Regions from separate parts of the Homo sapiens genome. Here regions 1, 2 and 3 are each linked to region 4. Evidence: fine-mapped expression QTL. A gene starts in region 4. Each other region holds a variant in brackets. All regions are shown on one strand. Distances are from middle to middle. Region 1 has its middle 19 kb from the start of DBI. Region 2 overlaps SCTR (secretin receptor). Region 3 holds the start of SCTR-AS1 (SCTR antisense RNA 1). Region 4 holds the start of TMEM37 (transmembrane protein 37).

Evidence for each region.
Region 1: its variant is fine-mapped to the expression of TMEM37 in lung (TOPMed, PIP 0.99).
Region 2: its variant is fine-mapped to the expression of TMEM37 in whole blood (TOPMed, PIP above 0.99).
Region 3: its variant is fine-mapped to the expression of TMEM37 in whole blood (TOPMed, PIP above 0.99).

Annotation. Positions count from the first base shown.
Region 1 is chr2:119,381,679-119,389,782 of GRCh38, reverse strand. No RefSeq gene overlaps it. Among named protein-coding and RNA genes, the nearest start is that of DBI, 19 kb to the right of the region's middle. The variant C/T (reference allele first, on the strand shown) is at 4,548.
Region 2 is chr2:119,463,398-119,471,501 of GRCh38, reverse strand. It overlaps SCTR (secretin receptor), which reads left to right. Exons shown (of 13, transcript NM_002980.3): 5 at 5,616-5,713; 6 at 7,247-7,379. Among named protein-coding and RNA genes, the nearest start is that of SCTR-AS1, 9.0 kb to the left of the region's middle. The variant C/T (reference allele first, on the strand shown) is at 4,929.
Region 3 is chr2:119,475,356-119,483,459 of GRCh38, reverse strand. It overlaps SCTR (secretin receptor), which reads left to right. Exons shown (of 13, transcript NM_002980.3): 3 at 4,542-4,649. SCTR-AS1 (SCTR antisense RNA 1) reads right to left here and starts at 7,006. Exons shown (of 2, transcript NR_147847.1): 1 at 6,502-7,006. RefSeq lists an enhancer at 2,010-2,521. The variant G/A (reference allele first, on the strand shown) is at 3,719.
Region 4 is chr2:119,427,611-119,435,714 of GRCh38, reverse strand. TMEM37 (transmembrane protein 37) reads right to left here and starts at 3,861. Exons shown (of 2, transcript NM_183240.3): 1 at 3,791-3,861. The coding sequence starts at 3,811. RefSeq lists an enhancer at 2,920-3,426 and a silencer at 3,710-4,089.

The DNA.
Region 1 (8,104 bases), 46 kb after region 4:
GGATCAGCTGGCACCACCCAGATCGAGAAACTGGCTCATCTGGTCTTGTGGCCCCCATCCAGGAACTGACTCAGCACAAGAGCACAGCTCCCTATGATTTCATCTCCAACTCAACCTGTCAGTGCTCCCATGTTCTGACCCCCTGCCCACCAAATTATCCTTAAAAACCCTGATCCCCTAGCTTTCTGGGAGACTGATTCGAATAATAATAAAACTGCAGTCACCCATACAGCTGGCTCTGTGAGAATTAAACTATTGCAATTCCCCTGTCTTGATAAATCAGCTCTCTCTAGGCAGTGGGCAAGGAGAACCTGTTGGGTGATTACACTTTTCTTTCTTTTGTTTTTTTTTGTTTTGTTTTGTTTGAGACAGTGTCTCGCTCTGTTGCCCAGGCTGGAGTGCAGTGGCATGATCTCGGTTCACCGCAGCCTCAACCTCCCCAGGCTCAAGCAATCCATCCACCTAAGCCTCCCCAGTAGCTGAGATTAGAGGAGTGCACCGCTATACCCAGCTAATTTTTGTATTTTTAGTAGAGGTGGGGTTTTGCCATGTTGCCCAGACTGGTCTCAAACTCCTGAGCTCAAGTGATCTGCCTGCCTCAGCCTCCCAAAGTCAGTTACACTTTTCTATCAAACTGTTGGATTCAATTTGCTAATATTTTGTTGAGGATTTTGCATCTATGCTCATAAAAGATACTGGTCTGCAGTTTTCTTTTCTTGTAATGTCTTTGTTTGGTTTTGGTGTTAGGGCAGTGCTGGCTCCATAGAATGAGATAGGAAACCTTTGCCCCCTTAATGGTGTTTCTTACTGTCACTTAAAATTCGATTTAGGAAAAAAGGTTTTCTCTGTTCCTAAACAAAAAACAGGATCCTGGCAGGCCCTATAGTTTGCCAGTTTCCTCCTACATAGTAAAGTGTCCTTAGATGGAGTAAAAGAAGTCTCACACACAAAAATACAAATATATAATTTCATCTATAGGAAGTTGTAGAACAGGCAAAACTAATCTGCGGTAGAAAAAGCCAGAGCAGAATTTGCCTCTAGGACCATGATGACAGATATTGACTGGGAAGGGGCATGAAGGAAATTTCTGGATGTAATGTTCTATATTTCGATAGGGATCTGGGTTGTACAAGTATATGCATTTGTTAAAACATCACACAGTACACGTTTTTGCATGCAATCTGTGGTATATAAATCTTTCCCTAAGGAAATAATGGACTGTAAATAAATACTGAACTTTGATTAATAATATACATGATTCAGTTTTTTGGGGAAGCATACTGACATCGGCAACTTATTTTGATATTCACAGAAAAAATAATTTAGATTGCTTGAGAGATAGAGGGATGATGGATAGGTGGATTAATATATGATAATGCAGCCCGGTGCAGTGACTCATGCTTGTAATCCCAGCACTTTGGGAGGCCGAGGCAGGAGGATTGCCTGAGGCCCAGGATTTGAGACCAACCTGGGCAAAATAGCAAAACCCCATCTCTACAAAATGTTAAAAAAAAAAAAAAAAAAGCAATTCGTGTAAAATGCTGTGAGAAAATCTATGTAGTGGACACATGGGTGTTTGCTGGAAAATTCTTTCAACTTATTTTCATAATAAAATGGAGAGAAATAACAAATGGAAAGTCCTTTAAAGTTTGGTGTGGCTAAAAGAATGGTCTGCGTCCTGGCCCAGGCCAGGTGGTCTTATCACTCCATCATGTGGCTTCTGCAGATCCCAGGTCCCAGTTCTGTCCTGCAGTCTGTCCCGTGACTGTCTCCACTGGAAATGGTGTCATCTGCTCACAGCCCCAAACACCATTTCTAGATGACTCATGGCCTCTGCCCACGCAAGATCTACAGGTTCTCTTTTAAGCTTTTGAGTCTTGATCACATGTATCGTTAAGGAGATTGCTTCCTCAGTAGCTATTGGCAGCAATGCCAGCACTGGCTTGGTTCCCTCTGAGCGCTGCATCAGGCCTGCTCTGCCAAGCGGAAAATGCTGCTCTGCCCAATGGGCAGAAATGAGGATAAGGGGGCATTTCCTGGCAGGCACAGCTCCACTCAACACCTCTGCTGACTCCAGAGGGTTCTGGGTTAACCATTTAACATATACTACCTTAGTTAATGGAAAACATCTGACCTGCTGCACCCTGGCAGAAGTAGACTTTGAAGTGGAGAGCTGGGACTGAAAAAGAAAAAGTCTGTGGGAAGAACTCCAAAATACAACAGGAAGGAGGAAACCAGAAATTATGCAAGATGGCCCCAAGGGAGAGAGAGAGAGCGATAGAGAGAGAAAGACTGCCTCTGAAGCAGCAGAGGCCGCTAAAGAGAATCCTGGAGAAGGCAGCCATCAAACCTTTTTCACTTTCAAGGGAGCCTGAAACTGCAAGCTACAACTTACCGGCTGAATTATAAAAACAACAATGTTTAAAATAATAATATTCAGTGCTAGCAAGAAGTTGGTGAGAGGGCACTTTTATACATTACTAGTAACAGGTTTTTACAAAAATAATTTAACAATATGTATAAAAGATCATACATTTTTACTCAATAAGTTATATCCAAGAGTATATCTATTCTAGGGGCAAAAAAAATGTTTTCAAAGATCCATGTATAAAGATATTTAACAGGCTGGGCGAGGAATCCCAGCACTTTGGGAGGCCGAGGCGGGCAGATCACAAAGTCAGGAGATCGAGACCATCCTGGCTAACACGGTGAAACCCTGTCTCTACTAAAAATACAAAAAGAAATTAGCCGGGCGTGGTGACGGGCACCTGTAGTCCCAGCTACTTGGGAGGCTGAGGCAGGAGAATGGTGTGAACCCGGGAGGCGGAGCTTGCAGTGAGCCAGTGAGCCGAGATCGCTCCACTGCACTCCAGCCTGGGCGACAGGGCGAGACTCCGTCTCAAAAAAAAAAAAAAAAAAAAGTTTAACAAATTATTATAATAACAGGAAAAATAGGGTATTGCTTATAGTGTACTAATTAAATTATAGTTTAACAATGCGATGCAAATATTATGCAGACATTTTTCATGATATACTTTAGGGGAGAAAAATCAGGTTTAGAACTTTATACACAGTATGATTCCCATTATGTGCTAAATGATTATGAGAGATTATTTGTTCTCTTTTTATAGTTTTCAATATTTTCTAAGTTTTCTGCAATGCATGCATATTGTTTTTCATATTTGGAAAAATATTTCTTAAAATGCAGCAGTTTGGAGATGGGATGTGAAGATTTCTCTCTGGGGATTGAGAAGGCAATATTGCCAAGGCTTGTTTAATATCTCTTAAAAATCAATTTGCTTAAGGATAAGCTTGCTATATTAAAATTAAAAAGAAAGAAAGAGATGAAAAATCAATTTGCAAATCTTTTTTCTTTTCTTTCTTTTCTTTTTTTTTTTTTGAGATGGAGTTTTGCTTTTTGCCCAGGCTGTAGTGCAATGGTGCCATCTCGGCTCACTGCAACCTCCGCCTCTGGGGTTCAAGTGATTCTCCTGCCTCAGCCTCCCGAGTAGCTGGGATTACAGGCATGCTTGTATTTTTGGTAGAGACGAGCTCGTCTCTACTAAAGTTTCTCGAACTCCCGACCTCAGGTGATCTGCCTGCCTCAGCCTCCCAAAGTGCTGGGATTATAGGCGTGAGCCACTGCTCCTTGCCTTCTTTTCTTTTTTTAAAAATCTTTTTTACAGTCTGTCCAAGAATATGGCAAAATTTGCAAATTTTTTGCTTATACTGTAAAGACAGTGCAGGTTCCAGTTTAGATTCGTACTGATGGAAATGTTGAGTCTGTGGGTAGGCGGAACAAAGCCTACTGCTGAAGAGCAGGGCTCTGCCTGCATTCGGCTGGGGCAGATGCATTATAAAACTTCCCGAAAGTGTAGTTGTAAGGCAGGGCTATGAACTGTGTAGACAAAACAGAAAAACCCCATTCCTACAAAATGTTTTTTTTTAAAAGAAAAAAAAGATAATGCAACTAAAGTAAAGAAAATCTGTGTAGTGAATACACAGGAGTTTGCTGTAAAATTATTTCAACTTTTATGTATGTTGAAAAAGTTTCATAACCGTCCATAGTGGCAAAGGTTGCTGCTATGCTCTCTTGCAACACAGACAGCTTTAGTGACAAATTTCCACCATCCACAGGGAAAGTGAAGGGCCACTGGAAAAGAAGGAACAGGGGAAAGGGAACTACCACTTATGGAGTCTTGTGGGACGTGTGTATAATGTTGTTGTAGCCAGAAAATGACAGAAACCTCTCTCGTACCAGCATACACAAAAAAGAGTTACATTGGAAAGGACAGTTTGATTGAAGCTTCATGTGATAATATGGAATCTCTTGCAGCTTATATTTTCCAAAAATGGCTGCAACAATCTCCCATCCCATGGGCCTTTCCTACAATATGACTTTGACTTTCCTCCCATGAAGAGATGGGGTTTATGTTCCTTCTCCTTGAATTTGGGTGGGCTTATGACTATGGCAGAAGGGATGCTGTGTGATTTATGAGGCTAGGTTATACCAGGTGACACAAATTCTGCCCACTCTCTGGGGACAC[C/T]GACTTTGGGAACTCGGCCACCATGCTCTGAGGAAGCCCAAGCCACATGGGGAGCCAGGTGTAGGCGTCTGGCCAATCGCCAGCATCAATCATCTACCAGACACATGAGTGAGGAAGCTCTGTGGGACTCCAGCCTCCACCATCAGGTGCAGCCTTGGGAGCCATCCTGAACAAGACCCACCCAGGTGAGCCCAACTAACCCCAGAGCCATGAAAACAATAATAATAAAGTGATTGTTGTTATTTTAAGCCACTAATTTAATTTCTGAGGTGACTTGTTACACAAAAATAGAGAACTAGAACAATGTCCATCTCTTAGCTCTTCCTCTCTTTTTTGTTGAACTCATTCTCTCCTGGTGGGTGGCAGGGTGGAGGGAGTGGCTAGAGTAAGCTCCAGGCTTAGCATCTCCATGAGAAAGAGATTTTTCTTCTAACGTCCAAATACGATCTCAGAGGACAGCTAGTGTGTTGTTGACTCCTATGCCCATCTTTGGAACGTCACTGTGGCCAGAGGAATGGGATTCTGTGACTGAGGCTGCCATTTGTTCACTCCAACATACATTTCCTCCTTCCCCTGGTAATGACATAAATTCTCCTGATTTTATTCATGTTGGCAATGTGCCCATCTCTCTTGTAGCTAGGGATGGCTAGGTGGTTAAATTCTGGCCAATGACAGGTGTGTGGTCCTTTACAGAAAGATCCTGTATCAGCTCCTATTATTGTAACAGATCACCACAAATGCAGTAGCTTAAAACAACATAAATTTATTGACTTACAGTTCTGGAGGTCAGAAGTTTGATATGGGTCTCACCAGGCTACAATCAAGGTGTCTGGGGGGCTGTTCCTTCTGGAGGCTGTAGGGGAGAATCTGTTTCCTCACCTTTTCTAGATTCTAGAGGCTGCCACGTGCCTTGGTTAGTGTCTTCTTCCATCTTCAAAGTCAGTGATGGCTGACTGAGTTGTTCTTACATCGCACCATCCTGACATTGCCTGTTCTGCCTATCTCTTCCACACTTAAGGACCCTTGTGATTACACCGGGTCCATCTGGATAATCCAGGCATCTCCCCACCTTAAAATCAGCAGATTAGCAACCCTACTTCTCCTTTCCATGCAACCTAATCTATTCACAGGTTCTGGGGGATTCAGACACGAACCTCTCTGGGTAGATCATTATTCTGCTAACCACAAATCTTTAAAAAGGAAGGGTACCCTTTTATCCTTTCTTCTCCCTTCCTGCTGTCTTGAATGGACTCCTGATACATCCACTTCTGGGATGAGGTACTGTGGCTGGCAGCCTGCCAGAAGCACCTTTTGGCAGTTGCTGCAAAGAGAGAGGAACTGTTCTTAGTAGGCTGAGAGAAGGATGCCAGACAGACAAAAACATCAGATGTTCATTATAAACATCTGCTGCAATAATGCTGCATGATCAACAACCCCTAAGACTCAGTGGCTTACAAGATTTATTTGTTAATTTCTAGCTCACAGGCCTTCAGTTGATGGTGGCTCTGCCAGGCTTATCTGGGATCAGTTGGACTTGCTCAAGGCTGTGGTTAGCTTCAGGTAGGCCTTGCTTATCTCTCATGTACCTGGCAACAGTGGCTCCTTGGCATCTTCTTCCCATGGCAGATGGCAGAAGTTCAAGAGGGCCGGCTAAGCCACACAAGCTCATATAAAGCTCTTTCCTGGATCATGTCTGATCACATGCCGTTGTGCAAAGCAAGTCCTATGACCAAGCTCGAGTGAATGGGTGGGGACGAGCAGTTCACTTCTGGTGGGCACACTTCAGGTTGGAACAGTGAAGGGCACAGACAGATAATCCTTTACGGAGGGTGCCAGGGGTTGGGAACAATCATCCAATTTACCACAGTGAGCTAAGCCAATCCACTTCCCTCATCAGTGAGGAAGTTTTGTAGGGATGTCTCTTCATGCCCACTTGACCTGGAGGAGTGCTACAGTGATTTTCTTCCCACTACATCCCATGCCCACTATTTTTAAAAATACTGAAAAGTGCAGAGACTAATGTAACAAATACGGAATACAGGCTCACAACCCAAATGTAAGAAACTTTTAGGCCAGGCACGGTAGCTCATGCCTGTAATCCCAGCACTTTGGGAGGCTGAGGAGGGTGGATCACGAGGTCAGGATTACAAGACTAGCGTGACCAACATGATGAAACCCCGTCTCTACTAAATATAAAAATTAGCCAGGTGTGGAGGTACGCGCCTGTAATCCCAGCTACTCAGGAGGCTGAGGCAGGAGAATTGCTTGAACCCGGGAGGCGGAGGTTGCAGTGTGCCCAGATCTCACCACTGCACTCCAGCCTGGGCGACAGAGCGACACTCCATCTCAAAGAGCCCCTTAAATTTGTGTCCTTTTCATTTTCTACTTCTGGAGCACCAAATTTTTGAGACTGTCACATAACTATAAATGCAATAGTTTCTGTTCCAGAATCCTGGGTCCCATACCCTAGGACTTTACCATACTTACCTAATATGGGCACAGCCCTGACTAACTACAGTAACTTTATTACCTAGGAATTGCATTTGTCTGCGTGTAGCGGTCTCCTGAAAAAAGTGGTTTAAACACACAAGGATCTATTATCTTACGGAATAAATTTTGAGGTAAGTAGCCTAGGGATAATTCAACACTTCTTCAGAGCCACCCGGAATTGAGATCCTTTTATCTTTCTGTTTCCATCCTCCCTGCTTTTAGGATAGGAGAGAGCAGTCTTCAGCATGAGACCCATCCCTAAGTAAGTAGCTGATTTGGGATTTTGTCTTGGCTAAAGTTAACAACCAGCTGGTCTTAGTTTCTCCTTACCATTAGAGTGCTCAGTAATCACCTAAGTTGTACAATTGTTTGTTTTGCTTAACTTTTTGTTGTTGTTGTTTGTTTCTGTTTTTGTTGTTGTTTCAGTCTTTTTCCCATTGGGTTTGACCAACTCTATATCTGACTTGATCATATCCAAAGGAAGGTTCCAAATTATGGGGAACAAGTGACTTCAAAAGTGACTTCAAAAATGACATAATTTGGCTTATTTGGAACAAAAATTACACAGGAAGTATTGTCAAATATAAAATGGTGTCTGGTTTTCTTTGGACTGTATTTGTATAAATGTTATTGGTATGTGCTCCAAAATTATGGGAAACTTCTGTAATTCTTATGTGACTTAGTGTACATTATCAGTAATAATCATAATTGTAACGTTAAAATTATTGTGTGAGACAGAGGTAACAAATTTCCTTGTCAATTGTGTCTTTGACTATGGCTGCCCTAAAACTTTTTCTCACCCATGGACAATTGTTGTCTTGTTTTGGTCCTCTTTAGAAGATGATTTTATAATCAGCTATAAAACTCTAACAGGTGCTCTTGAATGCAGGTTTCGATAACTTTGGAGATTGTGGCATCAGAATAGAGGAAAAACTTTCAGGACTCATGGAGAGCTAAAATGTTCATGAATATCAAACAGAACAGGAGTTAACTGCCTGGACTGAACTAATCTTTTTGACTTTTTGCTTAAAACGTTGCTGATCCTTTGTTTTGTGTTTCAGTCTTGA
Region 2 (8,104 bases), 36 kb before region 4:
GAGAGGAAGCAGTTCTTTCCTTCCCAGGGCTTGTCATCCCATTGGGAACATACACGAGGTCTTCAGATCTGGTCAGAGTGGGATGATTTAATAAGGAGATTCGACAAGGAGTGAGCACTCGTGGTCTTGGAGGGATGGTGAGTGGGCTCTGCCTTCTGCAGAGGAACAGTTCTATCATCGACTTATATGAAGAGAGGGGGCTTATTTGTTTCAAATTTGTAAAATCCATAAAACTAAAAAGGAATAATATCATGATGGGTGGCCGGATGAGGTTCATAAGAAGGCTTTGTACTGCAAATAACACACATTTCTAACTGGTTTAATAAGCACATGTGGCTTGCGTAACTGGAAATGCAGAGAATGGGCTTCAGGATTCTTTGATGAGGCAGCACCACAGAATCACCAGGGTCTGTGTCATTTGCATCTCTCTCCCTGCTGTCCTGGTGGCTTCTTCCTTAGGCTGGCATTGTAAGATGACTGCCATCAGAAATTGCAGCCACAGGCCAGGCACAGTGGCTCATGCCTGTAATCCCACCACTTTGGGAGGTCGAGACGGGTGGATCACTTGAGGTCAAGGGTTTGAGACCAGCTTGGCCAACATGGCGAAACTCTGTCTCTACTAAAAATACAAAAATTAGCCGGGCATGGTGACGTGTGCCTGTAATCCCAGCTACTTGGGAGGCTGAGGCACAAGAGTCGCTTGAACTTGGGAGGTAGAGGTTGCAGTGAGCCAAGATCTCGCCACTGCGCTCCAGCCTGGGCGACAGAGCGAGACTCTGCCCCCAAAATAGGAAAAAACATCCACACAATGAGAACTGTTGGTTTACACTAATCAGTACGAATAATGGAGCCCAGGGCCTTAACCACAACGTTCATGCCAAGATTAAAACTGTAAAATCCCCAAACCAAGGAGCTGAAATTTCATAAAGGAAAATGTAACGCTTTGGACTTAACTCAGAAAAATGATTGTCCAAAAATGGTGGAAAGGAGACCTAGCTTGGCTTCAGCTTGCATTAAAAAAACAAAACAAAACAACAGCTCTGAGATTGGAAGGGTTTCCTGACCACGTGATTCACCGGTCCCTAAATGCCAGTCCACAAATTGGCACGAGTTTTGTTCTTTATTCTGAGATTTAAACCATCCTATTTCTTATTATTAAAATGTCTTTTTATCAACTGAGGGTGAAGGTATGTATTAGTTGCTTTTCTTTTTTTCTTCTTTTCTTTTTGTGACATCCTTACTTGGTATACACCACTATATTATTGACACACAATATTACTGACACCAATAGTGGACTCAGATTGGCAGTAAGACCGCACATAGATGTCACATGGGTAAATAAAATGGGATTTGCAAACTGTAGCTCTTGGACCCAATGAGGCTCCACTGCCTGCTTTTGTAAATAAAGTTTTATTGGAACACAGCCAAGCCCATTCCTACCACAGTAAGGCTACGTTTACATGACAAGGGCAGAGTTGAGTATTTGCAAAAGAGACCACAGGGCACTCAGAGCCCAAAATATTTACTCTCTGTCCCTTAACAAAAAATGTCTGTGACAGATGATCTAAAGGCTACAGAAAGCAGGTGGTACAGTCAGAACATACAGCAGTAAGAGAGGCAACTGAATTCAGGACAGACAACAGTGAGGCTTCTGGGCCCCATGTCCTCCAGGAGTGGTGCACACTTTTAGATGTTAAGAGCTGAGGACTGGCTGGGTGTGGTGGCTCATGCCTGTAGTCTCAGCACTTTGGGAGGCTGGGCTGGGAGAATCACTTGAACTCCTGAGCTCAAGACCAGTCTGGGCCACATAGGGAGACCCTATCTCTACAAAAAAAATTTTTTTAAGTAGCTGAGTGTGATGGCACTTGCCTGTAGTCTTAGCTACTCGGAGGTTAAGGCAGGAAGATTGCTTGAGCCTGGGAGGTTGAGGCTGTAGTGAGCCATGATCGTGCTACTGTACTCCAGCCTGGATGACAGAGTGAGACCCTGTCTCAAAAACCAACAAAAAAAAAGCTAAGGACCGAAGGTCACATGAAACCTTCAGGGAGCAAGGCTGTTTCTGGGTGGGTGAGGTCTTATGGTTCCTACCTTACAAGGCAAGAACGGGTCTACATGAGAAGCGGGCTGGTCACCTGGCAAGCAATGGCCACAGCCACGGGACAGTGCAGAATCTTCTGCATGACACCCCCCTTGTCACCCTGTGCCTCTTCAGGCTCTTGCAGGCTGGTCCAGGTATCCCCAGGAGTGAGGCTGACACCCTCTGCAATGCGGCTCATCTGTACATGGCGAGATTATATGTTAACATATTGGTCCTCAATTTTTTGACATTTCACAGGTCTTTGATGTCCCAAAGCCTAGGAACCATTAATTCAAGGCAACCCACTGCCCTTCAAGGGTCTTCCTCACATCCCTGAGAGGTGACTCCTGGCTCTCAGGAGAGCAGTTACATCAGTGGGGAACTCAATGTCACATGGTAGCCTTCCTATCGAAGGCCACCTCCTGCTGTCAGAAAATGATCAGTCACCCCGAGTCAAAATCTACCTCCTTTCTGGAAACTTCCCCCAACTGGAGCTCACACATGAGGTCTGGCCCTTCTTCTACATGTTGTTCAGTCTAACACTTTTCTCCTCTAAGTGTGTGTTTTTCCCCTCCAGGTGTCATGGACCCAGTTTTTTCATGTACTCTACAGATGACACAATCACCCTCCTCTGGAAATGCTTCAGTTTATTAATGTGACTCTTAAAATAACATGCCTAGCCTCTCCAAACATTCCCACGTGGCCAGCTGCCCACAGCACTCCATCAGTGTAACTGAGAATAAAGCTAATTTTTGAGCCATTTCATGCTCAGACTTCCTACCATCTCAAACCGCTGACTCATTTTGAAGGAGGATGGTGGGATGGGGAAAAATTAAAATTACCATACACTGAGTGTTTCCTACATGCCAAGGCATTGTCTAGGTACTCTATCTGACACTGTATTTGTTCTTCCAACAAGTCTGCAAGGTAGATATTATTATCCCCATTTTGCAGATGAGGAATCTGAGGCTCAAAGAAGTTAAATAATTTGCTCAAGGTCACACAGTTGGTGAGTCACAGTCCGGGTTTGGAACCCTTGTCTCCTGGCTCTGAAGCCTGTGTTCTTTCTCTACAGTACACTGTGTGACACCATGGAGCTTGGGTCTTTCTAACCTCAAGGTTACTTTCCCATGAAGAGCTGTCAGCCAGGTTTCCCCTATTCTATTCTTGTGCCTTCTTAAAAAAATAATTACCCTTTTCTTTTGGTTATAAATAGCCCTTATCCACTGTGGAAAAATTAGAAGTATAGAAAAATTATAAAAGAAAATAACAACTCTATTTGCAAGCCTATAATACAAAGTTAACCACTGTTAACATCAGCCATATCTCTTTACAATCTTGTCTCTCTGTATGTATGAGATTGAACCACATGGAATGGCTGATATTCAGTTTTTTTGTTTTCTTTATTTTTTGTGTTGATATTCAATCATTTTGGATCTACACAAAAGGTAATTTCATATAAATCTTTTTAAAATTTATTTATTTTAAAAATTCTCAGCAGAATCAGTTTTCATATAATTCCCTAATATGTTTTTACATATAGCTGGAATCACATTGCACATGTAAAGTTTGAATTCTGCTTTTTCATGTAATAATATATCAGCATGTCCTGACTCATTTTAAATTCTTGGTAAACAACATTTTATTAGCGGTATACCATGAAAGTAATTTGTATTTGAAATAATTGATGTAACTATTCTATTGTTGGACATTTGGGTTTTTTTTATCACTAATACTTCTGTGATAAACATCTTCATGTATAAATATGCTTTTAAATTTCTGATTATTTCTTAGAATCAATTCCTGAAGGTAGAAGGGAGGTCAAAAGGTCATATTTCAAAGGTTCTTGATACATATTTCTATATTACCTTCCAGAAAGATTGAACCAGTTTTGAGTCCCACTATACCCTCACCTGCAGAGGAAATTATTACTTTTACATATTTGTTAGTTTGGTTGGTAAAAATTATTCTTTTAATTTTTATTCCCTTGATTCTTTTTGATACTTTATTTTTTGGACCTAAATGCAGATCTTTCAATTTTTTTTTTTTTTTGAGACAGGGTCTCCAGCCCAGGCTGGAGTGCAGTGGTGCAATCTCAGCTCACTGCAACCCCCACCTCCCGGGTTCAAGCGAGCCTCCTGCCTCAGCCTTCCAAGTAGCTGGGATTACAGGTGCACGCCACCATGCCTGGCTAATTTTTGTATTTTTGGTAGAGACAGGGTTTCTCCACGTTGTCCAGGCTGGTCTCGAACTCTAACCTCGAGTGATCCACCGACTTTGGCCTCCTAAAGTGCAGGGATTATAGGTGTGAGCCACCATGCCTGGCCAGATCTTTTAATTTTCTGACCAATATTCCACTTAGATCTTTTTGACTCAAAGATGAGCCAATAGTGTGAAGTGGCTGCTGAATAAGTGAATGCCTGCTTGGCTGCATAGGCGCGCAATGTATAGATCAGGGGAGATGGGAGGTGATGGATCCCTTCTACCTCTTCCTGGTCAGAGAATGCATCTGGAGCTTTTCAGCTATGTGGTTCTGGGGGTCTTATTTAAGAAGGACATTAACAAACTGGAGCATATTAATTTAACTAAAGGTTGAAGGATTGTGGAAAGAGGTTAAAGACACAGGGAATATGTATGTATGTATGTATGTATGTATGTATATATTTATTTATTTGAGACAGGGTCTTACTCTGTCATCCAGGCTGGAGTGCAGTGGCTGGATCACAGCTCACTGCAGCCTTGACCTCCCAGGCTGGAGTGATCCTCCTACCTCAGCCTCTGAGTGGCTGTGACCACATGTGTGCACCATTGTGCCTGGCTAATTTTAAAATTTTTTGTAGAGACAGTGTTT[C/T]GCAATGTTGCCCAGGCTGGTCTTGAACTCCTGAGCTCGAGCAATCCTTCCTCCTTAGACTCCCAAAGTGCTGGGATTACAGGCATGAGCCAACGCACCCGACCTGACACAGGGAATATTTGACATAGAGAAAATGAAAGAGAAACAGATGGGCAGAATAGCTGTATTAAAAAATGGCAGGCCTCCCTGTATGACCTTTGTAACTTTTCTATATAAAACCTGCCTTATATAAAAGACAAATCCATTTTAAGTGGATCCAGAAGACAGAAAATGGACCAATAGGTGGTGCAAGTAATTGATTTTAGCTTCACATAAACAAAATCTAATATTTTGTGCTATTTTACACCAAATAACTTTCTCAAAGGGCAGTGAGCACTTTGTCTCTAGAGGTATTCAAGCAAAGGTTTGAATTCAGAGAGTTGGTAAGGGGCCCTATACATAAGATGGAAGTTTGAATTGGCATCAATTCAAACTTAGGGATGATCCTTAGGGATCATCAGATGATCCCTAAGGGCTTTTCCAATGCCAGGATGTTACGGTGTTATGTGTCTGTGAATTGGCGTCCTTGAGGTATGGACAGAATAGCAGCGTCGGTGGGTTCAAGCTGCCTGAAGCGGATGCAGTGAGGCACAGAAGGCAGAGCTAGCCAGGAGGGCCGGCGGGGCTGACACGTGCCTCTCTCTGCAGCACTCCTACCTGCTGAAGCTGAAAGTCATGTACACCGTGGGCTACAGCTCCTCCCTGGTCATGCTCCTGGTCGCCCTTGGCATCCTCTGTGCTTTCCGGTGAGAACACACTGCCAGCTCTCCATACCCCAGCCCTCCTCAGGTACAGACTTTGGGTCTCTTCTCAACCACCCAGGACAGAAAGAGGAAGGTCTGAGTGAACTACCTTGTCGTCTCTTGATCTAAAGCTGACCTATGGCAAAACATCGAGGTTCCTGTGACCTCATTCATCCCTTTATTTTTTCAACATTTACTAAGCACTACTGAGAACTTGCGGCCGGTCGCTTTATATGTATTCTAATTTTCACACAATGCTATGAGATAGGTAACAGGAACCCCATTTTACAGTAGTACTAGCGAGATTCTGTTGCAAGAGACAGAAATCCACCTCGAAACAGCATAAGAAAAACAAAGGCGACCTGACCCATGTAAGTGGCAAGTTCATGGGCATCTGCTGTAGGCATGGCTGGATCTAGGTGTTCAGTGGCATCAGCAGCTAGGTCCGTCTCCCTCCATTCCACTGCTCTGGGTTGGCCTCATCCTCTGGGAGGCTTTCTGCAGAAGTGGCAGAGACAACCACCAGCAGTTGCTGGCATTCATCCTGCTAGCTCAGCAACACCAGGGCCAACAAGAGCCTCTTCCCCTCTGGTTCCAGTAAAAGTCCTCAGAGTTCTCATAGGCCGGGCTTAGGTCACATGCCCAACTCTGAGCCAATCACTATGGACAGCGATGGAGCACTCTGATTGATCAAGTCTGTCATGAGGGTGAGAAGGGTGGAGCCCTCCCAATCCAGAGCTGGAATGGGTTTCCCAGAAGAAAGCCTGTTTCCGGTACCAGAAGAAGCAGAACAAGTAACTGACTTCTGTCCCCTGCAGCAGAGGAGGACACTGAGGCTCCGGGAAGTGAAAAGTCTTGCTCAAGGTCATATAGCTGCTAAGTGGCAGAGCCAGGGTCTGCTTTCTCCCCGCAGCCTGTGTTCCTTCTGTGCCCCTAGCCCTCTCCCGTTCTGGTTGCCGTCCTCACCCCTCCCCCAAAACAATTCTGGGAGCTGGAGATGGTGGTAGGTCAGGGCAGAATACAATGTTGCCCCTACAGCCCCAGCTTTTTATTTATTCATTTAGAGACAAAGTCTTGCTCTGCTGCTGAGGCTGGAGTGCAGTGGCAATGGTAGAACTCCTGGGCTCAAGCAATCCTCCCACTTCAGCCTCTTGTACAAGGAATACAGGCAGGCACCACCATGCCCAGCTAATTAAAAACAAAAACAATTTTTTTGTAGATACAGAAGTCTCAATATGTTGAACTCATGGCCTCAAGTGATCTTCCTGCCTTGGCCTCCCTAAGTACTGGGATTACAGGTGTGAGCCACACTGTGGCTGGCCTTTTTTTTTTTTTTTCTCACTGCAGCATGTAGCAAATTAGACTGGCCACCTGGAGACCCAGTTCCTCATTCAGGTTATGCTCACAGAATGTGTTACCCGGAAAGAGCTGAAGTCTAGGGCCTCAGTTTCCCCAGTGCACTGGTGGCAGGTGGGCCTGGCTGAGTCCCAGCCCCTCAGGCTCTGGCCTCTATGTCCCTACATTCTCTCCCTGCAGGAGGCTCCACTGCACTCGCAACTACATCCACATGCACCTGTTCGTGTCCTTCATCCTTCGTGCCCTGTCCAACTTCATCAAGGACGCCGTGCTCTTCTCCTCAGATGATGTCACCTACTGCGATGCCCACAGGGTAATATGTCTGGGTGCCCCAGGATGTCGCCAGGCCCGCCTGCCTTCCCCAGCCTAGCTTTGGAGAGGGGAGTAGCCTAGTTGTCCTTCCCCCAAGCCCCTGCTGAGGCTGCACTTAATACCAAGGATAAAGCAGCCAGTGCTGACACTGGGCCAGGAGGTTCAGGGAGATTCCACAGCCACATGTGCACAATCTGGGTCATGTAGGAGAGAAGCTCATGGGGGTTGCCGTAAACTCCCAGTGTCCAGGAGTGAACTGGTCACTCTAGGAATTAGATATATAGGGAGACTCCTCTTTTCCCTACTTCTGCCAGTTCCCAGCTGAAGAAAGATGACCCAGTCTGGAGAGGGTGGGGGTTGGTCATAAAAAGAAAAGGGTGAGCATGGGCCAGTATGTCTGTATAAATGTATTTGCAATAAAACGTTGTGTTTTCTTAAATCTAACCCCCTTTCTCCTTCCAAATGCCCAGATGACTCAATTCATTGCAATCACCCTGTGTGTCAGTTGGGATTCCTTTTGCTGCGAATAACAGAAAACTATATATTGGGGTCTTAAACAAATGGGGGCTGTTTCCTACGTAAGCAGTCCACAGATGAGGTGGTGCAATGGCTGTGTGATACCATGAGGGACACAGTCTTTTCCCCTGTTTCCGCACTGCCATCCTTAGAGTAGGCCTTTGATGTCATGCTTTATACCACATGGTTGCAATATGACTGCTGCAACCC
Region 3 (8,104 bases), 48 kb before region 4:
GCTAGCAGCCAGGTCTGCTGCCACCAAGGCCAGCCTGGAGGAGGCAGCCTGTCCCAGGCTGGGGAGATGGGAAGGCTGAGTGGGATCCCAGCTCCATTATCACCAGCTCTGTCACCCACACTTCTCACTTCCCCCTCTTGGAACCTCAGCTTCCTCATCTCCGCCGTGGGGCAGTGACCCTACTCACCCTTGAGCTGCTGTCAACCTCAGCTCCAGGATGTCTGATGTGCATCCAGCACAGGCCTGGCATGGCCTGTCCCCAGGCATCCCTGGGGGCCCTGCCTGACGTGACCCAAGTTAGGAAGCCTCTCAGACGTGCTGGCACCGTCCACATCTGTCTGGCCAACCAGCCAGGCATTGTCCAGCCTCATGGCCTGGAGCCTGCGGCTGGTACCCTGGCTGACCTGGCCAGTCCAGCCAGCACTGAATCTGTTTTTCCACAAGTGAGGCAAAAGGCTCCTGCCTTTTTCCATGCTCTGGAAATGCCCCAGCTGCTTCCAATGCAAGAGAGGCTGACCCGAGCTGGCAGGGGAGCTGCAACTTGAAACGAGGCATCCTGCTGCAACCCTGAGACGGCCGCACAGGGAAAGAGGGCTCTGGGTCACCCTTGGCCTCCTGAGACTCCAGGTGCCAGGCTAGGTCAGCACGGAGACACAGAGTGGGCTGTCCGTAAAGGGTCCTCAGGACCAAGTCCCCATCCCACAGGCATCTGGGTAGGCCCAGGGTTACCCGGCAGGCCTGCTGAGTTCCCGAGACCCTGCTCAGGCCCAGCCAGCAGCGTCCACAGCTGGAATGTAGACGGGCAGCCTCGGGATAGTGGCGGAGCCGTCCCTGGGGAGTGCACAGCAGAGAGAAGCTCCGGCTCCTCCTCTTGCAGGTGAAGCTTCTGGAACATCCAAGGAGTTCCTCATCTCCCATATGCCTCCAAGGACACAGACCCCTGCCCCTTGGCCTCATAGATGCTTCCACTGTCCTGTGAAAGCTCCGCCCACACACTGCCTTCTGTGTCCCTCTACAATTCTACGACACCCTTGCTCATGGTTGCAGCCTGCCCTTGTGGCTCCTGGGACTGCCCCGCCTCCAAAGCCCCCACAGGCGTCCTGATTTCAGGACTGGGTTCCTCTCTGGGCCCTCCCACTTCCCCTCTCCTGCTAGGGGCTGGGCCTCTCTTCAGGGAGAAACAGGCCACACCTGCCCCGCTCTAGGCCAGCATCCCCCCTAACCCAGGCCCTGGCCCGGCCCACCCTACCGTTCCCTACCCCTTCTGTCCCTCTCCAGTTCCCAGAGCCTGGCTTGAACAAGGAGGGCACTTGGCAGCTGGGGCCGGTGTCACCTGGAGACTGGTCAGGTGGGTGGAGGGCTGGGTGGAGACAGCTTTCATCCCCTCCATGTCCTGGCTGTGTGGCCTGGGAAGCCACTTCTGGCTCTGCTTGATTGCTGCGTTTATAAAGTGGGGGTAGAGCCAGGCACATCGGGAACTGGGGGCACCGCCATGGGATTACAGGAGCTCAAGTGTGGGACGCACAGGGCTCCTCCCCATCAGCACAGCACCAGAGCTGGCAGGCCCTGGATGCAGAATGTAGAAGTCAACTGGGTGTCAAGGTGAAAGCCCGTTTATGAGGGATGCCTGGCGGGACTGGTGTGGGAGGCAGTGGTTCCAGCTGGCGTCCCTTCATTTGTTCATCTGCTGTGTTTGCTGAGCACTTGTGCTATGCCTGGCCCATCGTAGGCACAGGGGCGTGCTCTCCTGGGCTCTCTGCCTGGTGGTGGGGGAGGCATCTGTACCCAGGTACCAAGGTGAAGACACAGCTGGTAGTGACCCCCACTGGTGGGTCTGTGACTGCCTGTCTCACTCTCTGTGAATTGCTCCTGGGAGCCAGGGGTAGGGCTAAGCCTAGAAATGAGGAACCCTCAGCTGTGAGGAGCAGGGAGACTCAGAGTGGAAATTCTCAAAGCAAGCCCTGGAACCACTTCAGCGGCATTTTTGGGGAATTCTTAAAATGCAGATTCCTGGGTCTGGTCTCACAAGGAGGATCTGGGGCCTAGAGATCTGCATATCTCTGACAGGCACCCAGCTCATTCTGATGTAGGCTGGAGGGTCACACTTCTGCAATGGGACAGGTCACCAGGGAGATTTCACTTAGAGGGGATGAAGGGGTCAAGGACACTATGGATGCTTTGGGTCTGGTCAGATTGATGCCTAAAAACAGGTTCTTGCTCCTTAAAAAAGCTGAGCATTTGCCATCTGGGTACTCCCGCAATGTCTGCACACCGCATCCATCGCCCAGTCCCCAGAGCTAAGAATTGCCATTCAGGGGACCCAGCCTAGTCCAACCTCCTGAATCCAGATGAAAAAGGAACAGGCCTGGGGAGGCCAGCGGGAAAGGGGTTGCCAGTCCCAGTGCCTGCTCTGGGCAGGCTTTTCAGTTGGGCTTTGAGCTCTTCCTCTGGATAGCCTCAGGAGGGAGGTGCCGGTCCTCCCACAAGAGATAAGCAAGTGAGCAGGGCAGCTGGCAAGGTGGGGGAGGCCTGGAGGCCGGGTCGGCCGACTTGAGTCCTGGCTCTTTCTTTTTGGGCTCTGCCCTGCACCATGTTCCCCAAACGGGAGGAGCGCTGACTGCGGCTCGCCTCATGGGTGTCCCTCAGCTCATTTCTAGCCCCTTCCAAGCCTGACCCCAGCGATGACCTCTCAGAGGGCACGGGTTCCAGAAGTCTGTTGCAGGAAGCAGTTTCCCTGTGTGGCTGCCCTTGGATCAACTTTGGGAGAATTGGTGAGTTGTTATGTGAAATGATGTCTTAAAAGACAGTACAGTCACAGCTCACACACAAATATAAAATGAATACCTGCCGAACAGCTTGTTTAATTTGTGAGGGACTCAGTAAGATCTTATCACTGGTTCATAGCATTCAAAGTAACTGATATGGTTTGGCTATGTCCCCACTCAAATCTCATCTTGAATTGTAGCTCTCAGAATTCCCATGTGTCATGGGAGGGACCTGGTGGAAGGTAATAGAATTGTGGGGGCAGGTTTCTCCCATGCTGTTCTCGTGATAGTGAATAAGTCTCATGAGATCTGGTGGTTTCATAAACGGGAGTTTCCCTGCATGTGTCCTCCTGCCCACCGCCATGTAAGAAGTCCCTTTGCTCTTTCTTCGTCTTCCACCATGATTGTGAGACCTCTCAGCTATGTGAAACTGTGAGTCCGTTAAACCTCTTTCCTTCATAATTACCCAGTCTCAGGTATGTCTTTATCAGCAGCATGAAAACAGACTAATACAGTACCATACCTATAAGGCAGAATGATAACATGAATTTACAAATAGATGCAAAGCTGACTGAATACACAGGGAGGGAAGTGAAATTAATTGTATTTCAACTGGACAATAATTATTGTGCCTATGGACGAGAATCATTTGCATTGCTACCAATCATCTAGAACTTACAGAGTTGCAGTGTAGCTCGAAGACAATAAAAGACCTGACACCCCATTGAATCAGATAATCCAGAAGGCTGTGCTTAGACAATGCCTAGTTTTGCATTGAAAACACCTAGTAATTTTTTTTATTCATCTTAAAATCTTTCAGTTTTCAGAAGTGGGCCACGCATCTGGCTCTGAGCTTCCTAGCAGCCAAATCAAAGAGGAAACCAGCTTCAAATGTAGTGTCTATGTATACTAGTCGTTCACAATAAGTTCAGCTTCTCACTGCATTGAGACCT[G/A]GTTCTCCTTCCAGAGGGGCCTCATCAAGGGAACTCAAGTGATGTAGAAAGCAACATCCTCAATAATATTCTTGCAGCAAATACAGTGGTGACACTTGTGGAGCTGTGTCCATAGGCCAGGGCAGTGGCTCTGAGTGTGGTCCCAGGACAAACAGCATCAGCATCACTTGGGAACTTGTTAGAAATGCAGATACTCAGGCCCCACCCCAGACTTACTGAGCAATCTGTGTTTTAATAATCCCTCTGGGTGACTCTGATGCAAGCTGAAGTTTGAGAATCATGGGACAAGAGTTCTCAACCCTGCAGTCAAACGTTAGAATTACCTGTAAGGCTTTCAAAGGACATGATGCCTGGGCCCACCCAAACCAATTCATGCAGGATCCCTGTGTGCCACGCCGGCTAGGTCTATTTCTAAAGCTCCCCAGGTAGTCGTACCATGAAGCTAGAAGGGAGACCCATTGCTGCTTAGTTGTTTAATGCAAACTGATTGGCCAACAGATGTGCCATCTGCTCCAGAGAAATCCAGACCTTTACTTGCAAAGCTTATAGGAGAGGGCGCCTTCCTTCTTTCCTTCTTCCCTTCCTCCCTCCCTTTCTTACTTCCTTCTATCTTCAACACTGAGCACTACCGTGTACATGGCAGAGTCCAAGGGTGCATTAGACAGGATAGGTTCCTGATCCTGAGGAGTCAGCACCTAATGAGAGCTTTGAAAGTAGTCTAGTGGGAATTCCAGGCAGGCAAGGGTGTCGGTGATGTGGACAGGATGGTAGGGCAGCCCTCGGTCCATCCCCCATCCTTGTCTGATGCTGCTTTTCTTGGCAGGTTGTGAGGGGATGTGGGACAACATAAGCTGCTGGCCCTCTTCTGTGCCGGGCCGGATGGTGGAGGTGGAATGCCCGAGATTCCTCCGGATGCTCACCAGCAGAAATGGTAACCACTCGGCCCATGGGGCCTGGCGGACAGGCTGAGGGGTGTCCCTCTGGGTGGGGCCTCAGCTTAGAGGCAGGAGGCCAAGGAACCTTCTCTGAGGACAAGTATGGGTACAATGATGGGGGAGATCACTGCAAAGGATTAGAAGCCTTGCTTGGGAATGTGGGGTGGACTCAAATTCTGAGGGTGTCAAGCAAGGGGGCAGGAGGCAGTGCACTGGGGAAGGCGATAAGGGAGGCTGGGCCTGCTTCTGTCTTCCCCAGGCCCTTCAGCTAGGAGCTCTCTTCCTTCCTTCCATGTTTCTGCCCCCTTAGCAACCAGGGGCCTTGTTCCAGTCCCCATGTCTGGAACCCCTCCTGGTAGTGGCAGGCTCCCTAATGGCCTGGCCTTCCAAAATACTTCCTTCCACTGTCAGGCCCTGCTGAGAAATTGGCTCCCTGGGAGCCCCTGGCCTCCTGGGGCGAGGGGTTGTCTTACCAGAAGACAGCTGCGGATTTAAGAATTTTCCTAGTTGACTCACATTGATTAGAAGTCGACCATGCACTGGACATTTTTATATGTACATACGGGCTCATTTATTCATCATAAACCCCCTGCAGATCACAGGACTTTTCCCTTGATCCAGTAAAGAGTAATAATAACAGGGACTGAGAAAAGCTGTGCAGCTGCCCCTCTTTCCTGGTCCATGCAGGACAGCAAAGCTGCCAGATGAAGCCTGAACAAGAATAGGTGATTTAACACTAAAACCCACCAGCCTTTCAAAGTCAGGCAAGGCAAAGATGACCACGGTTCAGAGACTGTGGGAAGGGAGTGGAGATTCTTCTCACCATAATTCTGCTGTACATACGCACATGTGTGCACACACACACATATTTGGGGAACATGCTGCTCCCTCGAAGCCTCACTCAACACCCTACACTATGGGAACTGGGGGAAATGAGGTAGACAGGCTTGAAACCCGCTCCTCCAATTCCTGGCTTGGTAATGCTAGCTGCTGTAACAGACAATGCCCCACATCTCAAAGCCTTCATGCAAATTTGTCCACAGAAAGTCCAAAACAGGCTGGGTGCGGTGGCTCACACCTGTAATCCCAGTACTTTGGGAGGCCGAGGTGGGCGGATCTCCTGAGGTCGGGAGTTCGAGACCAGCCTGGCCAACATGGTGAAACCCCATCTCTTCTAAAAGTACAAAAATTAGCTAGGCGTGGTGGTGCACACCTGTAATCCCAGCTACTCAGGAGGCCGAGGCACGAGAATCACTTGAACCTGGGAGGCTGAGGTTGCAGTTAGCTGAGCTCGTGCCACTGCACCCCAGCCTGGGCGACAGAGTGAGACTCTGTCACAAACAAACAAACAAACAAACAAACAAACAAAAAACGTCCAGAACAGGAAACAGGTATTCCTGATTAGCAGGCAGCTCTCCTCTACACGGTGACCCCAGCACCCCACACCTCACAACCGTGGCATCACATAGTTTCCAGGCTGACTGGCGGAGAGGAAAGAACTCGGAGGACCACACAGCAGAGGTTCATAAGGGGCGGGCCTGGGAAGGATCCCACTCTGCCCACATTCCCTCGGCTAGAACTCAGTCACATGGCAACATCTAACTGCAAGGGACCTGGGGAAATGTCTTTTAGCTGGGTGCCAGTCAGCCCCGGGATCCAAGTTGCTCACTGCTGGGGAGCCTCAATTTTCTTGACTGTAAAATGGGGAAAATAAATAAGACCTGCCCTGTAAGGCTGTGCTTGGAAATAAATTTTGTCCCTTCTCCCCTACTCCTCTCCCTTCTTTTCCTTTTTCTCCTTCCCACCTTCCCTCCCCTACCCCTGCCACACACACCCCCGCAAGCTTACCAACTTTACCTGCCAGCGTGGCCCCTCCATGCTTGCCTCTGGGGTCCTGGGAGCTCAGGACACAGGAGATTAGTCCAGATGTGGCGGACCTAGAGCCCCAGGCTGGTCAGGTGCAAGGTCACGCCCAGACTCCACTTTCTGACTCCTGTGCAGTGCTCCTCCACAGCTGACCGGGTTTTTCTCCTGATGGAAAGGACTCGAAGCTCTTCTCCTTTGCAGCCGTCCCTTTTCAGCCTTCCCAGAGCCACAGCACCTCCGCCTCCCGCAGCACTGTCCCTTCTGCCCTGCAGAGGGGATAGGCGGAGCTGGTGCTCACGGCCACAAAGTGACCAGGTGCCAGTCCTGTCACATCCTTTCTCAATTAATTGCTTGAACCCCTCCCTGCCTCATTACGTAAAGGCTCAGTGTCTCCCTCTTGAGGCTCCCCTACCCTTGGATTGCTCATGGTCCGCGGCAGGAAGCTGGACCATGTCCACACAACGTGAGGATGGAAGCTGGGGTCCTGTGCCGACTCTGCTGCAGTTTCTTCTCGCCGCCACATGGTGTCGCTGTGGGCCTGCAGGGCCACACCAAAGGCCTGCCTATTGGGCTCTGGGCTCCCTCCAGGGTGGTGGGGGCCACGTTGTTCATACCCAGCCTGGGGGTGGGTGGCCCAAGAGCACAGGTCAACAGCTGTCTGGCCTCAATTTATCATCAAGAACTCCCACCCACCCCTCCTTCATCCCCATAGATCTACTTCTGGGTCTGATTAGACTCCTGCCCCTTCATCTCCCGGCAGGAAGGCAGGCTTCCCTAGGTGGTGCCCCCAACCCTAACCCCAGGGGGAGCGCCCAGTGAGGACAAGGTGCTCTGGAAAATAAATTAATTCTCCTTGAGGGCACCTACTACATGGGTCCTGACAGGAGGGGTGGGGTCCATGTGACTGGAGAAACCGCAGGCCGATTCTGCCCCCAGATGTTTCTGTTCATGCCAGGCCTAGAATGCTCCCTCTAGGGTGTATTCCTTTGATTCTGAAAAGGACGCTGGTCTTCCAGAGTTCCTTATTAAAAAACACAATTCCCCAGCGGCATCCCCTTGGCCCTCTTTCTCTTCCTACTTAGTGAGGATCTGGCCTTAAAGCGGTCATGCTTCCCAACCTGATTAGGGTCCCGGAGCCTTCTGAAAATCAGATGAAAGCTTTGGACTAGTCTTTCCCCGAACTGCATAAATATATATCTATATATCTATATATTTATATATATGCACATAATATATATATTTATTTTATATTTATAATATAATACAAATATAAATATAAATATCTATTTATATTATATATATAATATAAATATCTACATCTATATATATATATATATGCACAAACATCCTTTCAGGGGTCCCCTGAGGTGCACACTGGCCTGTGCCTGGTTAAGTTTCCCTTACCTATTAGGAATTCAGCCCTGGGGAAGTGGGGAGGCAGCTGCTTTGCAGCTCTACAGAGTGGAAGGCAGGGGGCCCTGCCTTGTTAGCAGCTCTGGGCACCTGGCCTGGGTCACATGCAGCATCTGTCTTGGGAGTCCTGCTGTGTCAGTGAGGAGAGGGCCCCAAACGGGCAGGCCTGCTG
Region 4 (8,104 bases):
CTGTCTCATTCCAACACTGTGTGCTCTGGGAAGGCCGCCCCCTACCCCCACACCACCACATTCTGTGTTTAGGCACTGCTGTGTCCCCAATACCTGGGCATTCAGTGGGTGCTCAAGGGAGAGCTGTGAGATAAGTCAAAGGTCATTGGCAACCACTGTCACTTCCGTCTGAAGCTCCTTTAAACTGAGTCTCCTGCACAGTCATACATTAAATGACCTGCTTTGCAGTGTGTCTAGAAGCTGCCCAGGTTACACCTCGGTTTGGGAGGTATGCAAAACAGGCACGCATGACGGTCACTGCTAGGACCCAGGAGAATGGAGCAGTGAGGAACATGGGGTGTGTCCTATGCCATGGGCAAATGGAGGCTTCCTGAGGCAGGTCTGGGCCACTCCTCTCTGTGTGAGACATAAAATAAAGCCCTGCTTCTGGGAGACTCCTGTGGTCAAAGAGCCCAGCAAGAGTATCTGCTCACATGCCCCAGACACAGGAGCTACCGCTAATTTCAACCCCAGGGATACAGGAATAAGGATGCAGTTTGCTTTCAGCACCTCTGCCTTAAGTAGGATCCTATTTTATTCTTAAACCTATGAGGTTGATAAAGTAGGAAGCTCCATGGTGGGTGTACAGAGAAGGAAACTATGCAGAGGGCAGGTGACTTGCCTGAGATCACTCACCTAAAGCACAATGAAGCTCTTTATGGCTGCCCAGACAATTGTATGATATGCAGGAGGTGGAATCCGTTCAGCGAATAAATACTGACTAGGGCCTTCTAAGGACAGGGCCTTTGTGCTAGGGGCTCAGTACTGAGCCCTTACAGCCCTCCCTACATGGGCTGTAAGCTCCTGGATGGGAGGGACCGCACTTGGTCTGTCCCAGCACGCTGCCTGGCCAGGATTCCAGACATGTCCCAGAACAAAGGGGAGGAATTCCCTGTGCCCCATGCCCTCTTGGTGAGGAAAAGGTGCGTGCAGAGGGATGCCTCAAGGGCCATGCCAGAGCTAGGACCAGCCTGGGTCCTAGCTGAGATGAAGGCAGCCTGGGTGCGGTCAAAAACATGGAGCTAAGAGTATGGGCTGTGGTTCTCAAACTGTGTCCCCATGCTCCTGGTGGGGCTTCCAGTGCTGAAGCCGGGTGGGCAGGGAAGCTGAGCAGGCTGGCTCTGCATCCCCTTCCTCACTTCAACTGAGCCCTGTACCTGCTTGGGACATTGGGGGTCCAGGAGTCTGTATTGCATTTTATTACAAAAAAAAAAAAAATCTACCGGTAAGAAAGAAACCAAAGGAAACTTTGAAAACCTGTGTCTACTCCACAAACCATTAGAGGTGTTTGTCCTTGGGCAGTTTCTTAACTTCCTGAGCCCTTGTTTCCTCATCTAGAAAATGAAGTTAATGACACTTGCAGGAAAGTCGTAGCCATGAAGGCACCTGGCAAGGTTACAAGGTCCCTAGAGAATGATAAATGGTCCTAAAAAGGAGGAGCACCACAGGCAGAGAACAAATCACAGGACCCAGAAACCTTTTAACCCGAGACAGCATGCTGGCTGGAAAACAGGCACGTCCTGTCCCTTCTCCAGCCCTACCTGTCCTAGGCAGACTGGACTTTAATCTCCAGGCCCTTAGATGTCACGTCAGGATCAGAAAGTGGAGACAGCTGACCTCATCTAGTTTCCTCCCGCTCCTGCCCCAAAGTAGGGCTTCATTTAAACTCTCTGGCCACCACTGAAACTCCCAGGAATCAAATGAGATCCTGTATATAAAGATGCATGGTACACGGGCCGCTCCCAACTCATGGTAGCTATTAATATTAATAACAATAATAACACATATAGAGTCTTCATTCCTAACCACCCGGCATCTCCACCAGCTTTCAGTGATGCAGGGCCTGAAACGGCTACTGGAGGGCAGCTGGACAAGTGTGCAGTGGAAAAGAAGGGAGCGGGGAGGTCAAGTCCTGCCCCTGACCTAGAGGACCCCTGCAGGGTACCTTTAGGCAATCACTTAAATCTCTCTGGAGCTTAACTGCTCTGCTAAAAATGTAAGCATTTTCCTTTTTCATCTGTAACCTTGCATGATTTCTAGTGACCTATAGAATAGGGTCACTTGACACTACTGGGCTACTGAGTCCAATGTCATGGTCTTCCTCCTATAACCCAGGGCCTCATGTGTTCCCCTTAACCAAAGCACCCCCAGGTAGACAAATTAAGCTCCTCCCAACTCATTCCGCACATCCCCAACATGTCTCCCATATTTGCTCCCCCTCATCACCCACTCTGCCCCTACCCAGGTGAGGCCATCACCATCGTCAACATCCTGGAAGTTCACAGCCTCCTGATGAGCCGGCCTGCCTCTGCTCCTCTCAGCTGCAGCCTGGCCCACCGCTGCCTGCATGACCCAGAACTTGCTTCCTACCTGTGTTTGCCCCCTGGCAAGTCATGGTTGTGGGGATGAAGAGTTATCATCCCGAAGCGGCCGGAGCACCCGCCCTTCACCTGGAGCCTGTGGCCTCCCCAGCTGAGCTCCCACCTTGCTACCAGGCTTCCTCCTCTTCCCCGTCTGGCAACTTTTGCACCTCTTAATTTAGCATTCGCTCCCCCATGCCCTGTTTCCAAGTCTCTCTCCCTACATGGGCTGTAAGCTCCTAGAGGGGAGGGACCGCACCTGGTCTGTCCCACCATGCTGCCTGGCCGGGATTCCAGACATCCCCCAGAACAAAGGGGAGGAATTCCCTGCGCCCCATGCCCGGCTTCGCCCAGGTGCCTAGGTCCTGGCTATAGAAGCGGTTTTGGGGGTGTCCTGTGGGTGGGGTTTCTCCCGTTAGGTAAAGGCAGGAGGAGCCAGTGGGATTTGGAGCCAGAAAGCCCTGGGTTTGAATCTTGATTCTGTTCCTTGGCCAGCCACGGAGGGCACCTTACTTCTGAGTCTCGGTTACCTCATCTATACAATGGGCAGAACGGTGTCTACTAGGTCAGTGTTGTGGCTGAGCGTTTGTACACGAAGTCAACGGGCCTCTCTAATCCTGGAGACAGTCCAGCGGATAGACTCTGCAGCGGGCGAGTTGCGCGGAAAGGAAGTTCGCCCGCTGGGCAGCGGTACCGCCACCCACTGACTTCCCTTTGGGGAGCAGCAGGCCCGAGGGAGCGGGTAGGAATGTGTAGGTTCTTAGCCAACATAAACATCGTGCACTACGCTAAGGAGAAGCCAAATCTTCGGAGACACGGGCTTCTTCCCTCGCCAGAGCCTTTCCCTGAGGTGTCCGCGCGACTCAGCAAGTCCACCCCCAGCCCAGCACCCCAAACGCAGCTTTGGGGAGGGAGACGGTCTTCCTAACCTCCACCCCCAGAAAGGTCTAACTTCCCAAGAGACGCATCCTCTGTTACATAAGCCTCACTTTGCAAGTCGATTCTGTCCCTCCACCCCAGACGCGCCTCATTTCTCACAAAGGGGGACCCTTATGGTAAACTGACCAGTAAGTCACTGGTGACACCAAAGAGAAGAAAAATCTTTCCAAATGAAGTTTGGGAGCCTCGGGTGCTTGCAAGGCCGCGAGCAGAAGCAGCCGGAGTCCGCGCCTCGGGAGCAGCTATGTGAGGCAGGCAGGCCCCCCGAGGTTGCTCCCCGCCCAGCCTCCTCCGGACCCAGGTTTGCAACAGGGGGCGGGCACGGGGGGCGCTCGCACCCCCAGCCCGACGCCGGCGCTCGCGGTGGGTACGCCCCTCCCTCCGTCCTCCCACCCCCAACCTCCCACGGCGGGGCAGCACCCCGGGTCAGCGCCCCGCCAGGCGCCGGCTACCTGCACGCCGACGGCAGTCATGCTGCGCCCGGCGGCCGCGCTGCAGCCTCGATCGCTCCAGCTGCTCCGCTGTGGCCGCCGGCGCCAGCCCGGGACTTCTCCGCAGGGGCGGGGCGGCTGCTGGAGGCGGGCGGGGCGGGAGGGGGCGTTCAAAGCTCGGCGATTAACCCCGGGCGGGCTCCGCCAACCCCGCCGCCCTCCGCGGCTCGGATTACGCTGAGTCAGCGAGGGCGGCCGGAGGAGCCCCTGGGGAGCCGCGGGGAGGACCCGGCACTTGGGGGGAGGGATCCCTCGGGTCCCAGGGGAAAGGATCGGGAAGTCACTCCGACGCTCCCGAACCTCCGAGGACAGCTTCGCCTGGGGCGCAGATTCCTCGAGGGCTGGGACGGCGACGAGGGCCTGAGGGTTCGATTCCTGTTCCAGCTTGCTGAGTCCAGCCTCTGGGAACGCGGCAGGGTCCGAAGGGAGGAGGCAGGCGCAGAGGCTCTGCTGCCCTCACTCTGCGGTGTGACCTTGGGCTGCTTGTTTAGCGTCTCGGAGCCTCGGTTAGTAAGGGAAATAATGAATGTGAAAGGTGGGGCTCTTGCCGGGCCCTCGCTGAGTGTGAACGGAGTGGAACTTTTTGGGGCAATCCTACTTGCGTCCCTAAAAGGGGATGTAAAACCCTGTTTCCTCCTGAACTCCTCAGGGACTATTAAAAATGCAAATATGCCAAACAAATGTGGTTATTTTTTCTCCACCTCGATGGGAACTGAGGTCTCTCTTTTTTTTTTTCTGGACGTTGTCTAGCGCTTGTGGCCCAGGCTGGAGTGCAATGACGCGATCACGGCTCACTGCAACCTTCGCCTCCTGGGTTCAAACCCGTTCAAGCGATTCTCCTGCCTCAGCCTCCCGAGTAGCTGGGATTACAAGCGCGCCCCATCAAGCCCTGCTAATTTTTGTATTTTTTAGCAGAGACGGGGGTTTCACCATTTTGGTCAGGCTGGTCTCGAACTCCTGACCTCAGGTGATCCACCGATCTCGGCCTTCCAAAGTGCTAGGATTACAGGCATGAGCCACCGCATCCGGCCGGATCTGAGTTCTTAAAGAGGCAGCACCTAAAAGCTTTTACCGCCAAAAAGGGTGGAGGTGGGAGGAGTGTCCAAGGGCCACAAATTCCAACAGAAAGGCTTCCCTCCCCCCATCCTCAAATGTGGTGGTAAAACAAGGCCCCTCACTAAATGGCACACATTAAATTGTCTGGTTCACTCAGGCAGGCAGCTCCTGGTGACTTTACCCAAAGACAAAGCAACTGCACTCATCTGTTTTCCCCTTTAGAGCCATGTGAGAAAGAGGGGTAGTTACAATTGTCTGTATATCTTCCACTTAGATATTCATCTGATTCCATCCCTGCCCAACAGACCTTGTCAAATCCTTTACCCCAGTCCTGGAGCTTGACAAACGGAGAAATGGCCCAGGCACAGGAAGGCTTGGCCCAGGCCACCCACATTGAGTCCACTGGAGAGCTGGGACTCCACTTACCCAGCAGGCCTAGTCCAGGTTTGAGTTCTTGCCACCATTCTGCACCAGAGTCACCTGGAAGGTTTGTTAAAACAGATTGCGAGGCCCCACTGCAGAGTTTCTGGCTGAGTGGCCTCAAGTGATGTTGGTGCTGCTGGCCTGGGGGCCAGGCTTTGAGAACCACTGAGCTAAGGCAAAGGGCAGCTGCCCAGGCTCAGCCAGCCTGGTGCCTCTCTGCTCTGGGGCCTTCCCTCCGTGGCCCCCACCTGCTTTCTCCCCAGTCAAGGGTCCCAGAAGCCAGACTCTCCGCAGCTCTGGGTTCTGGATAAAGAGCCCACATGGGAAAGGAAGACCTGTCCTGTTGCGGGGGTATCCTTTCACTGAGCCCTAAGAATGCCCTGTGGGCTCTCCCAGGTGAGATTCTGGATCATAGCATCTCACCTGGCCAAGAGGGAAGTGCCTGGAATTAAAATCAGAAGAACAGTCAGGTCGGGTCATCTGCACCCACTGCCTTCTCCAGTTTCGTGTGTGGTCAGGCATGTTTCTCACAGCCTGTTACGCTTTGTTGGTAAGAATAGAAAAGTATTGAATCAGTAGAATTTAGAGCAACATGTCTTGTCAGCAAGATAGTTGGAGAAGCAGAAATGACTTAAGAATAATAAGGAGGAAGTGACTATCCAGTTCTGATCATCTTATGCTCACATGAGGACTGGGAATATGGCCAGAATTTGGGTGGAATCTGAGCTGAGACTCTAAGACCTGGAGTCTCCTGGTACCTCTCTGGCTTAGGGGGTTGGGGTGGTGCGGGGAGTGGCAGCATCCACAGCCCTCTCAAATCCTGGTGAGATAGCCAGAGGTATTGGGGTCAGAAGTCCCAAAGCATGGCGCTTTGACATACACAACTGAAAAAGCCTCAAGGTCTCTCTGACCTTCCCTCCCCTCACCGTCTCTCCCAAAACACAGGATGAAACTGAAGTTCCTTTATCTGCCTAACATCCAGACCCACCAAAAGGAACAATTGTGTTTCTTCTCCTCCCTGTAGGACTGAGAATGTGACCACACCCGGCAAGTTAATCTCTATTCCCTGATCCATTCGGCTAGCCCCTCTACAGAATTCGTCTTCTCTCCTCTCCCATCACCTGTTCTGCCAGGATAGTATAGAAGCTTCTGAGCACTGCTGAGGGGTGGGCATACTCCGTGATTCTCCCGGGGTGTACACCTTGAATTAATGTATATACCTTTTCTCCATTTAATGTGCCTTTTGTGAGTTTATTTTTCATTGAAACTTCAGAGGGTGAAGAAGCTTTCCCTTAAACCCTGCAGAGACAAATACCGCACCAGGAGAAGAATGTCCAGAGAAGCAGGGAGTTTTAGTGTGAGGGGAAACATGGCAGGGGCAGAGGTGGGGGTTGGATTACCGGGTGGACCCCCAGGTGTTAAAAGCAGAAACAGCATGGGCATGAGTACTGGGCTGTGGGACAGCATGGAGCCTGCCTATTCTTTGACTTTCTCTGCCCTTTGTCCAGATTGTGACAGACTCGGCACTTGACCCTCCCTGACCCCTGCTTCTAGGCCTGGCCAGGGCTGGGGAAAGAGGAATGGCTTAAAGAAAGGCAGGAAGTGGCTCCTTCCCACCCCTCTGACCACTCTTGCCTGATGAGGAAGATCCAGGCATGTTCCTTAGAGAGTTTCAAGTGTATTGGTAGGGACACAATTCCTGATCATTCAGTCAACAAGCACTAGATCTGTTGTTCAGTCAGCAAACACTCTTTCATCTCGGGGCCTTTGTACTTGCTGCTTCTTCTGCCTGAAATGTTCTTCCTCCAGATACTCCCATTTAAGACTCACCAGCTCACTTCTTTAAAGTCTGGGCTCAGATGTCACCTTATCAGAGAGGCCTACGACGACCCCCACATCTAAAACAGCCCCTCCATTCTCTTTTCTCTTCTGCCCACATACACATATTTACTTGTCCTCTCTCCCCCTTTTAATGTAAGCTCCAAGAGGCCAAGGGCATTGTCCTGTTCACCAGTGTATCGCTGGTGCCTACGACAGAGCCAGGCATGTAGTAGGTTCTCAATAAATATTCATTGACTAAATGAATGAAGTGATTGAATACCTACTATGTAGTCACAACTGTCCTGACCAATGAGGGACAAAGAAGAAAAAGACAAAGTCCCTGTCAATGGTAAAGTGCTTGAGTTTTAGAGTCCAAACCTACCTCTCCATTTCTGCTCTCTCCCAGGCCTCGGTAGTTCAGGCTCCACATCCTCCTGCTCTCTTTGCCCTCACGCCCTCCATATACTCCATCCTCTCCTCTCTGCCCCTCCAGTGCCTGCCCGGCTTCAGCCCACCCCAGATCCCCTCCTCTCTAGCCTGGATGCCTGTGGAACAGCCTTCACTCTCACTTCCTCTGTCCCTTCAAGCATCTTCCCATCCCTCTTTTCCAAGGCTCAGGAAGCTTTGGTTCCTGGCCCCCCAGCCCCCGACCTTCCTGCCAAGACCTTCCCCTGGGTGTCTGCAGGGCCTTTTCAGGGGCATCTCCTGACTTTCCCAGCCAGAGTAACACTCCACCCCCCACTTGCCACTCTTTTACCTTTGTAAATTCTTGATCACTAGCTGAAAGTGGCTATTTGTCTATTTCCTGGATTGTCCCTTTCCCTCTCTAAAATATCATGGGCTCCATGAGAGCTGGGACTTTTTCCCTCTTTCACCACTCCATGCCCAGTCCCTAAATACAGGTTGGTCAATAAGGTTTGCTTACAGAAGAACCAGGCTTCTAATGCATTCTGAGCAAATACTTCCCCTCTGTGC